3 linked regions of the Homo sapiens genome follow. The protein of the gene in region 2 purifies or fractionates together with the protein of the main gene of each other region. This does not show direct contact. Each region holds a gene or a part of one and is shown on either strand. Other genes may lie near its edges.

Region 1 (3,500 bases), on a different chromosome or scaffold from region 2:
TCTTACACAATAGTTATTCAGGTACTATCACAATTACCATTAAAATATCAGTAGGGATTTAATGCAACAATAGGATGTGGAAGATATTTCTGCTCAGTACTTTAAGACTTACATTTAGCCTAAAAATAGGCTTCCATTTAACATGTAAATGAAAGGCATTATTCCACTCAGCTTGGAGAACAAAATGCTAGGCAGCACAGATTACGTCAGAACATTTTTGAAGATACTTTTTCTTTTTTTTAAGTATCTCACTGTCTCCCAGCCTGGAGTACAGTGGCGTGATCATAGTTCACTGCAGCCTCAAACTCTCAGGCTCAAGCAATCTTCCCACCTCAGCCTCTCAAGCAGCTGGGACCACAGGCACATGCCACCATACCAGGCCATTTTATTTATTTTTTTAAATAGAAACAGGGTCTGCACTGCCCAAGACAGTCTCAAACTCCTAGGCTCAAGTGATCCATCTGCTTCGGCCTCCCACAGTTCTGAGATTATAGGCACGAGACACTACGCCTAGACTAAAGATATTTTCATATTCCTTAGTTATGCAAACTAAAAGATTGTGCAACTGAAAATTCACCTACTAATGTATATATTTGTTCTTGTTTAGACAATAATTACTATATTATGCAAATGGTGTTGACACTGTTAAGCTTTGACAAAGAGTAAATGGGGGGGATATATCTCCTGAAGAGTGAGATTTGTAGCAACAGTTTGTTTCTCCCTCAAGAGAAGAGGGAAAATAGTATTAGGTGAGAAGGTAGCAAGGTAACAGCCTTTATTTTAGATTCACCTGGATGGCAACTATTCCTTCATTCATTTATCATTTATGGAACACTTTAAACTTCTATTACATGCCAAGACACCATTTTAGGCTTTTGGATGTATCCGTGAGCAAAATACAAAGAACTCTCTGCCCTTGGGGAATTCACATTCTAATCTGAGACAAATCTATATATAACATACATAATAAAGCACAACATTAGAGATGATGTTAGGAGGTGTTATGTGCTACAGAACAAACAACAGGATAGGTGGGATTAAAAACCTGTATAAACAGTCTATAGGTTGGGATTATAAACCCTGGAGCTAATCTGTTACAACAGAACCAAATAGAGTATATGAAAATACAAGCTTTCAAAAGTGTCTTATACTCTACTTCCATTCTATTCCTCAGTGTTAGTTATGTCTGAAAACACCAGATGAGAAACGGAAAGAAATGGAATTTTGATGTGCTCAATCAGGCCAATACTTCAGAAATATAGCATCTTATGGATTACTGTTGGAGAAATTCAGAATCAGGATGTCAGAATTCAAGGGGGAAAATAAGAACGTTTGATCAGCCAACTCCTTTTGACCTACACACGTTCTTTCCAGAATCAAAACTAGGGTGACTGGCCTCATAGAATATGTAAAGGGAAAACGACAATAACTAAGGTGCTTTTATGCTCTGTTTTAATAAAGAGATACGCTGTTTTCAACACTCAAAAGTTTTAGCTTTGGGTCCCAATCTCTCTTTTTAAAAAATAAAAAAAGAAAAATAACAAAAAAAAACAAGGCACACAGCAAGGCGCCTAACATCTACTTAGCTCGCGGGCGGATCAGCTGACTTGGCCAGAGGATGTTCCAGTTTCCAGATCAACCTCAACCCGCTCGGCTTCGTCAAGGTCCTTGAGTGGACTGCTTCTATCTTTAGAGTCACCTTGAAGGAAACTATTCCTTCATTCATTTATCATTTATGGAACACTTTAAACTTCTACTACATGCCAAGACACCATTTTAGGCTTTCAGATGTATCGTGAGCAAAATATAAAAAACTCTCTGCCCTTGGGGGATTCACATTCTAATCTGAGACAAATCCATATATGACATACATAATAAAGAAGCACAACATTAGAGATGGTGAGGGTTTAAGGGCCACTTCTGGGGGTTTTAAGGGCCAAATAGAAACTCAAGTGAGTTGTCCTACCACAGTTAGTGAGAATAAAACTATTACAGCTACTTTTGGTTACCCATTCAGGTTGAATGAGGCATCATTTGAGCCACCTCCTGGTGTAAGCGTGTGATGTAAATTGGAAAAGTCACATCCTCCTAACCAATTACTCTTCTTCTGCACAGTTCTATGCTCCCTTTGCAGTCTTTGTGCTCCTGTACTGCACTGATACCCTTCTGCTTTATGCTGGCTACACGAACCTATAGCTGGATAGTTGTAAACTTCCTATGATTGACTTTGTGGTTGGTGAGCACTTCAACCTGGGCTAAAGCTGACAGGTATTAAAAAAAAAAATTTAACATAAGATAGTACTAAAGCATCCCTTATGTGGGGACCTTACCTTCTCAAACCTCTCATCATGTAGGGTCAGCTGTTCATTTCTCCTCATGACTGAGGAAGTCATCGAATACTCCGTGAAGCGACTCTTTGTTTCCTCACTCCAGAACAAGTGATCTGCTATAGCTCTGTGAGTTTTTCCGGGCACAGACATACAGTCTTCATCTGACAATAGGCCTGCAGAGTCATAGTCATCATTGCTATCTCCCTTCTCATCATCCACATCTTCCCACTCGCTGTCATCTTCATTCTCAGATTTCCTAAAGTAAAGGTCATAAATTACCTACCAAAACAACTTAAAAAGTAACAGAACAAAACCACTTTACACAAGTAAAATTGGAAGGTATTTCAGGAAGGGTTCTTGTCTAGGCAGGAAGAGTGAGGGTGTTTGATCAATCTGGTTTGGTAGGAAAAGCAATGAATCTCACATTTTCTGCTCTAAAATACAGAAGTCTCAGATTAAATGCTCTTGAAGGTCTCTTCCAACTGTAACGTTCTATGGTTACCATCCCACTGAAGCAGTAACACTTAGGTCATCATCTCTGCTTTGAAACAAACCACACATACTGTATATCCATTCCCTCTTCCTCTCCTGTTGCCTTATTGGCCTGAAGAATAAAGTCATCCTCAAGCAGATTATCTGGATCATCAAAGTCAAAATCATCATCAAGAGCTGCAACAATGTCAGGATCAAAATCCAGTCGAGGTCCTAGAAGGAAAACAAAAATTAAGCAGTAATTCCCAAGATAGCAACAATTCATTCACTTAACTCACAATATAAGGACCTATGATAGCAAGAGTCTATTAATATATTGAGGATAAAAGAACGATTAAGAACTAAGTTCAGTCTAGTGAAGAATAAAGAATGAACACTCCAAGACAAAAAAAGGAAACAAAATGCTGCCTCAGCCCCAGTCAGGACCTTATAAATAAAACTCCCATCTTCCTGGGACAGAGCACCTGGGGGAAGGGGCGGCTGTGGGCACAGCTTCAGCAGACTCAAACGTTCCTGCCTGCCGGCTCTGAAGAGAGCAGCGGATCTCCCGGCACAGTGCTCAAGCTCTGCTAAGGGACAGACTGCCTCCTCAAGTGGGTCCCTGACCCCTGTGCCTCCTGCCTAGGAGACACCTCCCATCAGGGGTCAATAGACACCTCATAGAGGAGAGCTCTGGTT
Region 2 (3,500 bases):
GGGGAGCTGACGCAACCTGTCTGCTTGGCTCTAACCCACTTGATCTTTTTGGGCAAGATGTATCAAATCAGTTCACAGCCCTGCCCCCAAACCCTCCCCAGTGTCCGCATTGACTACTGAGCTCATTGGCTTGACTCCCAAGGCCTTTCATGAGCTTCTCTAGCTTCCTTTTCAGCCTTATCTCTCACTCCTCGCCACGCTCCTCACACTGCCTAGCTTTAGCCTCAAAAAATGCCAGGCTTTCTTGCCTTGAGGCCTTTGCACGTGCTCTTCCTTCTTCCGCTTTGCCTCCTAGGTCTTAAGTTGGGCGTCACTGCCTTCTGGAAGCCTCCCTTGAGCTTTTCCTCTACTCCAGCCCTCTTCCTTATTATAGCACCTGTGCTTCCTCCGTCTCCACGCTGATGGTGTGGCGGGTGCCTACTTTTCTTTGTTCCCCACCAGACTGTCTTGAGAAGGGAGACTGCAGCTGTCTATCCAGCAGGGATTCCCAGTGCCCTGCATAGTGCCTTGGCATATAGTAGGTGCTCAATAAGCATGTGTTGAATGAATAAATGAATGACTAAATAGTATGGTGAGAACATGGGACAGTGCCTGTGGATAGATCTGGCCCTGAAAACCCCCCTATGGCCGGTGCTGGTGTGGCAGGCACAAGTGTCAAGCCAACACAGGTGTTTGTTTCCATGACTTGGGGCCTGCTGGTGGCTGGGCTGACTGTGTGGGCGTGTGGTCACTCACACTTCCTGCTGCAGCACTGATGACAGCTTGCCAGGGGCATGCAGGGAGGAGGAGGGTGGGTGGTACAAGGGTGAGAGGTGGGCCAAATGAAGCCAACCAAGCAACAGCCCCCTGGCTTTTGAGGCTGGGACAACCCTGGCTTTGATGTCGCTTGTGACATTTATAGTCCAGTTCTTCAGAGGCTCCTTGTGTTGGGGGGCTTTTAACCTTCCCTGGGCTCTGATCAGGAACTAACAGTGGGAACTTGGTGATGCCTTGAAGAATCTGAGAAGTCTGGACTCTGTCTTGAATCTTGATCCTGACTCAAAGTTTTGCTGACACTGAGATTGCTAAGATCCCAGGTTTGCAGCTTCACCCAAATTTTCTTTTACTCTGGACTATCAATAACCATAGTTAATGTCTACTGAACATCCACGATGTGCCTGCCACTCTTGCCATTCTTAACTTAGAATGTGTCCATGTATTAACTTATTTGATTCGAATAGGTAGCTGCCATTAGCATTCCTATTTTTGGACAGGGATGCCCAGGCTCAGATAGATGAAGTAGCATGTGTTCAGTTACCTAGCTAGTAAGTGGCACAGCCAGGATTCAAACCCAGGCAGGCCAACTCCCTGCTACTCCAACTTGCCATCTTTATGTTCCCTGCACTTGCAATGCCCTTGCTCCCATCCTCCATGTGTTGCCATCCCTCAAGGCTCAGCTCGTAAGCCCTCTACTCTACAGAGGTGTCTTCAATCTTCAGTTAGAATGAATCCCTCCCATAGCGCATGGCTTATGCATATTTTATAGCAGAAGCCTGCCTGGGCAGCAGCTCATCCTTCAGATGGCAAAGTCCTGGAAAGCACAGGCATGTCAATCTCCTCTGCATCCTCTTCAGCACTGCTCCCCTCTCCCCTTCACAGAGAGAGGCCCCAGGCAGGTACTCAATCAAAGTGGAATCAAATTTGTTGAGGAAAAGCTACTGCTCATCTTGATGGAGGCCACTTACAGAGAAAAATGTTGTGCAAGGCTAACTCAGCTCTAGAAACCAGCTCCTGGCTGGGCTCTGGGGAAAGATGTCCCGAGAACAGGCAGATTTCTTCCTGTCAAAGCTGCAGGGCTCACGACCCCAACCAGAGGTCCAGAAAGGGTCCCTCTGAGAGTCTCCCGCTGGAAGCTTCAGCCTTGCTGGCATCTGGCACTTTCTTCACTCCCACCTTCCTTGTAAGCTCTCCTGAGTGCTCTGAGATGCTTGTCCTGCTCTCCACGCAGGAACTCAAATCCATGCAGGGAAGGTTAATAAAAACCACTGGTCAGGTGCTATTGACTATGCCCTCCCTCAGCAACCCCTGCTACCCTCAGCTGACATGAGATGCCTTTGCACTGACTCAAGCCTGGCCTCATGGCTACGGGAGTGGAATAATATTTTGTTTTTCCCTTCATGGGATCCAAGCTCCCTGTCTTCCTCAGAGATTGCATGTTTCAAAATAGTCTTTGGATTACGAATAATTAATAAGAAATATGTCTTTTTCAGAAAGACACTGTTCATCTTCCTAACATCCAAGAAAAACATTCCTATTCTTTTAATAGTAAATTATTTCTAGGAACTCTCTCATCTTCATTTTTTCTATAGCTGGAAATTGGCCAGAAATTTCTGGGTATTACACTTCAAGCCAGTGCAGTTGGCCAGTACTGTAGAAAATGGCACTGGAATGTCCTAATACTGCATTTGATGGTACAGTGTTATCACTTCATTTACAGAGCCAAATACGCCCCTGCTTCCTCCTCCCCTCCCTTTTTTTCCCGTTAAATCAGGAGCCATTTCCCATATTCAAGGCTTTCTGGGATAATATCAGGAAGTGACTGGATGTGACAGAGTGCTGGCTATTCATTAACATAGACTTCCAAGTCCTACATTGAAAGTTACCAGCCTACACTAGCAAAGAAGAGCTAAGAGAGAGCAATGAATATCAAATGGACACACCGTTGCTTACCCCAAAGGTCCCAGGCCATTCACCATACAATACAGCACTTCAAAATCAGTGAGAACCACCATATACATGCAGGATGTCCACACATGCACACGGAGGGGGCATTCCTGGAAAATGGGGTGAGATGATGTTTCTTTCTGTCTCCACTCTCAGGAGCAGTGGAGGACATGGGAAACAGCAGTTCTCCCCACTCTTCCTACTTCCAAACATAGCATGCAGAACAGGGACATTACCTTTGGGGTGGGTGGGAAGCTCTGTTCAGGGACAGGGGAGTTAGTGGGCTTCCCACTGTGGTTCTTTGCCTCCCAGTCCTCCACTGGATTGCCTGTGTCCCCAGTGCGGAAGGGATGGTTGCTCAGTGCTTCTTCCAGCGCCGAGGGCAGTGGGCGGGTGGGAGTGAGGTCTTGGGTGGGAACGGATGGCGGGGGAGGGATGGGAATGGGGGGTGGAGTGCGCTGCACCCATGGAGAGGATGAGGCGCTCACATGGCCAGATAAGGGAAGGACAGGGGGCGCCGGGACCTTGTGGGGTGGGTTGGAGGGTGGAGGGTGGGGCATCACAGGCAAGGCAGAGGGAGTCTTGGGGGGATAGTAGAACATGTCCAAAGGGATGTCGTCCAGGTCAGTGGTGTGCAGGTGCAGTCCGCCTGCGAAGCGTCTCAAGGGTGGGGCCAGGGGAGACACAGAAGGCGGGGGAGGCGGGGGCCCTGTGGTCATCTGGGGGTGTTGCAAGGAAGTTCTGTAATTGTCACTCTGCTTAGAGCTCCACTTCACAATACAGCGAGCACTATGCTC
Region 3 (3,500 bases), on a different chromosome or scaffold from region 2:
TACAGTGAAACCCCATCTCTACTAAAAAATACAAAAATTAGCCGGGCGTGGTGGCATGTGCCTGCAGTCCCAGCCACTCTGGAGTCTGAGGCAGAGAACTGCTTGAACCCAGGAGGCAGAGGTTGCAGTGTGCTGAGATCGAGCCACTGCACTCCAGCCTGGGCGACAGAGTGAGACTCCGTCTCAAATAAATAAATAAATAAAATAGAATTGATGACACAAAATATTTCTCAATTTACAAATTACCAACTGGCAGAGAAGCTGAAAAGTTGAGAAAAATGCTAAAAGAGCAGTGGACATCTTACGCTCAATCAGAAATAAAAATAAAGCATTTCTGAAATTAGAAATACAAGGCAACAAATTTAAAAATTTATAAAAAATATGATCTGCACACAACATTTTAGGGCAAATTATCTATTTGAAACCCAATGCAATATTCTTCTACTAGGCAGAGAAATACTTTTCCACTTCACCTTTACTCCTTAATTCCACTTGATACTTACATTGCTATGCCACATGCAGAGCACATATCCTCTACTTTGTATTATAATGATAAATACAAAATCAGCCGGGAACAATGGCTCACATCTGTAATCCCAGCACTTTGGGAGCACAAGGCAAAAGCATCACTTGAGCCCAGGAGTTCAAGGTCAGACTAGGCAACACAGCAAGACCCAGTCTCTACAAAAGAAAAAAATGTATTTATGTATGTATTTTTTGTTTGTTTGTTTTGTTTTGAGAGAGTCTCACTCTGTCGCCCAGGCTGGAGTGCAGTGGCACGATCTCAGCTCACTGCAAGCGCCACCTCCCGGGTTCAAGTATTCTCCTGCCTCAGCCTTCCGAGTAGCTGCGACTACAGGCACCCGCCACCACACCCAGCTAAATTTTTTTGTATTTTTAGTAGAGAGGGGGTGTCGCTGTGTTAGCCAGGACGGTCTCAAACTCCTGACCTCGTGATCCGCCCGCCTCGGCCTCCCAAAGTGCAGGGATTACAAGCGTGAGCCACCGCGCCTGGCCTACAAAAAATTTTTTAAAAATTATCCAGGCACAGTGGCACATGCCTGTAGTCCCAATTACTCAGGAGGCTGAGGCGGGAGGATCACTTGAGCCCAGGAGGTTGAAGCTGCAGTGAGCTATGATTGTGCCACTGCCCTCCAGCCTAGGTGACACAGTGAGACCCTGTTCCAAACACACACACACACACACACACACACACACACACACACAAAGCCAAACTCTTTAAAGACAGGAGTGTTAAATACACTTCACATCCGCCACAATAGACAGCAGTGCCTTGTATATACCAGTCATCAATAAATGCTTGATGAATGAGGATTATGATTTTTTTTTTTTTTTGAGACAGAGTCTCAGCTCTGTCACCCAGGCTGGAGTCCAGTGGCACAATTTCCGCTCACTGCAGCCTCAACCTCCCAGGCTCCAGCAATTCTCCCACCTAAGCCACCTGAATAGCTGGGGCCACAGGCGTGCACCACCACACCTGGCTAATTTTTTCTTGTAGAGATGAGCTCTCACTATGTTGCCCTGGCTGGTCTCAAACTCCTGGGGCTCAACCAATCCTCCTGCCTCGGTCTCCTAAAATACTGGGATTAAGGGCAAGAGCCAAGGTAACTTGTCACTGATGCTGTCAATTTCAAGTGTCCTGAAAATTAAAACTGAAGTCTACCAATTAGAAATGTCTACCAATTAAGGTTACTTCTATTTTTAAGGTCTTCTCCTGAATAACCAAACAAGATCACATTTCATATTACTGCACAAACTAACCTCACTGAGAAACAAACAGAATTATTCTCTGAGATACTAAATTCCAGACGACAAAAATCTTCCTATTTTTAAAACAAGGTTCTTGGCCAGGCGTAGTAGCCCACGCCTGTAATCCCAGCACTTTGGGAGGCCCAGGCAGGTGGATCACCTGAGGTCAGGAGTTCAAGGCCAGCCTGGCCAACATGGGGAAACCCCGTCTCTACTAAAAAGACAAAAATTAGCTGGGTGTGGTGGCAGGTGCCTGTAATCCCAGTTACTCGGGAGGCTGAGGCCTGCGAATGGCTTGAACCCGGGAGGCAGAGGTTGCAGTGAACCAAGATCATGCCATTGCACTCCAGCCTGGGGAATAGAGTGAGACTCTGTCTCCAAAACTAAAACTAAAACTAAAATAAAATAAAACAAGGTTCTTTAGCCATACAGCCAAACCACTCAGTGACAAAATCCACCATGTTTTGATGCTTGCTCAAGCTCAAGTTTGCCATCAAAGCACTTTACCCTTAAGTCACTATATTAAGTCAATGATAATAAATATCGTATAAGTGACACATTTCTTGAGGGCAGAGACTCTGACTACACCCAGCATCTAAAACAGTACCTCATATCTGGTAGGCATACTCCATGAATATTTGCTGAAAGAATGGCATTCATGACTATCTCACGGACTTCCATGACATATTCCAGGTGCTTCTCACCATTGCTCATATCTACCCATGAAGTCCTCCTTTTTTGGGAAGGTCTCGCTTTGTTGCCCAGGCTGGAGTGCACTGGCACGATCTTGGCTCACTGCAACCTCCACCTCCTGGGTTCAAGTGATTCTCCTGCCTCCTGAGTAGCTGGGATTACAGGCATGCGCCACCATACTTGGCTAATTTTTGTATTTTTAGTAGAGATGTGGTTTCCCCGTGTTGGCCAGGCTGGTCTTGAACTCCTAACCCCAGATGATCCACCCGCCTCAGCCTCCCAAAGTGCTGGGATTACAAGCCACCCATGCAATCTTTCAATATCTCATGACCACCCTCCTCTTCAAAGCCAAGAGAACCCAGGTATAGTATGAAAGTATCTCCTGCTTTAAATGATACATTAAGATGCTTTCCCCTCAGTATGCAAAATTCTAAAGTCAAATAAATCATCAATATTTCAGAAGTCAGCAAATAGCCCTTAATGGAAAAGAAACACAAGTTTCCAGTCATTCAGCAACCCTCTGTGACCTACTAAATTAAGTACAAGATTTCTCAAAGTAAATCTAATACAAAAAGTTACAGACTTCTAAACCTCTTTCTAAATTATAAAAGGGGAGCCAGGGAGGTGTGAAAAATTACAAAAGGGGAGAATGGTGTGAACATGACCCTCTCTGAAGCAGTAAAATATCTAAAACAAGTCTGTGGGGGGGAAATTTTTTTTAAAGGCATCTAGTTCACCCTCCCACACAAAGCAGGAATTCCTCCAATGTCACCAACAGGTGGTCCTGCAGTTTTTGACAAAGAGACAGAACATTTCCCATATGAGCATTCCCATAACAGAACGCTCATTCTCTCTCAAGTCAACCCATTACCTTCTTCTTTAATCAGGATCTAAAAATACTTTAGCTTTTATCAACTGACTCTTCTTCTGGCCCCAACTTCATCTCAGCATCATGAACATAAAGCTCTTCTAGCCGGGCATGGTGATTCACACCTGTAATCCCAGCACTTTGAGAGGCCGAGACGGGTGGATCACAA

What was found. The genes of interacting proteins can lie anywhere in the genome.
Region 1: the proteins of USH1C (region 2) and LTV1 purify together in Homo sapiens (affinity purification with mass spectrometry; one large-scale study listed by BioGRID and IntAct). This does not show direct contact.
Region 3: the proteins of USH1C (region 2) and WDR20 purify together in Homo sapiens (affinity purification with mass spectrometry; one large-scale study listed by BioGRID and IntAct). This does not show direct contact.

What each region holds. Positions count from the first base shown.
Region 1 is NC_000006.12:143,856,838-143,860,337, reverse strand, and holds part of LTV1 (protein LTV1 homolog), read right to left. Parts: intron 3,036-3,500; coding exon 2,894-3,035; exon of another isoform or gene 2,757-2,893; coding exon of another isoform or gene 2,755-2,756; intron 2,587-2,754; coding exon 2,331-2,586; intron 1-2,330. UniProt on the Homo sapiens protein: Essential for ribosome biogenesis.
Region 2 is NC_000011.10:17,506,417-17,509,916, forward strand, and holds part of USH1C (harmonin), read right to left. Parts: intron 3,423-3,500; coding exon 2,940-3,422; intron 2,814-2,939; coding exon of another isoform or gene 2,706-2,813; exon of another isoform or gene 1-2,705. UniProt on the Homo sapiens protein: Anchoring/scaffolding protein that is a part of the functional network formed by USH1C, USH1G, CDH23 and MYO7A that mediates mechanotransduction in cochlear hair cells. Required for normal development and maintenance of cochlear hair cell bundles.
Region 3 is NC_000014.9:102,146,397-102,149,896, reverse strand, and holds part of WDR20 (WD repeat-containing protein 20), read right to left. Parts: intron 1-3,500. UniProt on the Homo sapiens protein: Regulator of deubiquitinating complexes. Activates deubiquitinating activity of complexes containing USP12. Anchors at the base of the ubiquitin-contacting loop of USP12 and remotely modulates the catalytic center of the enzyme.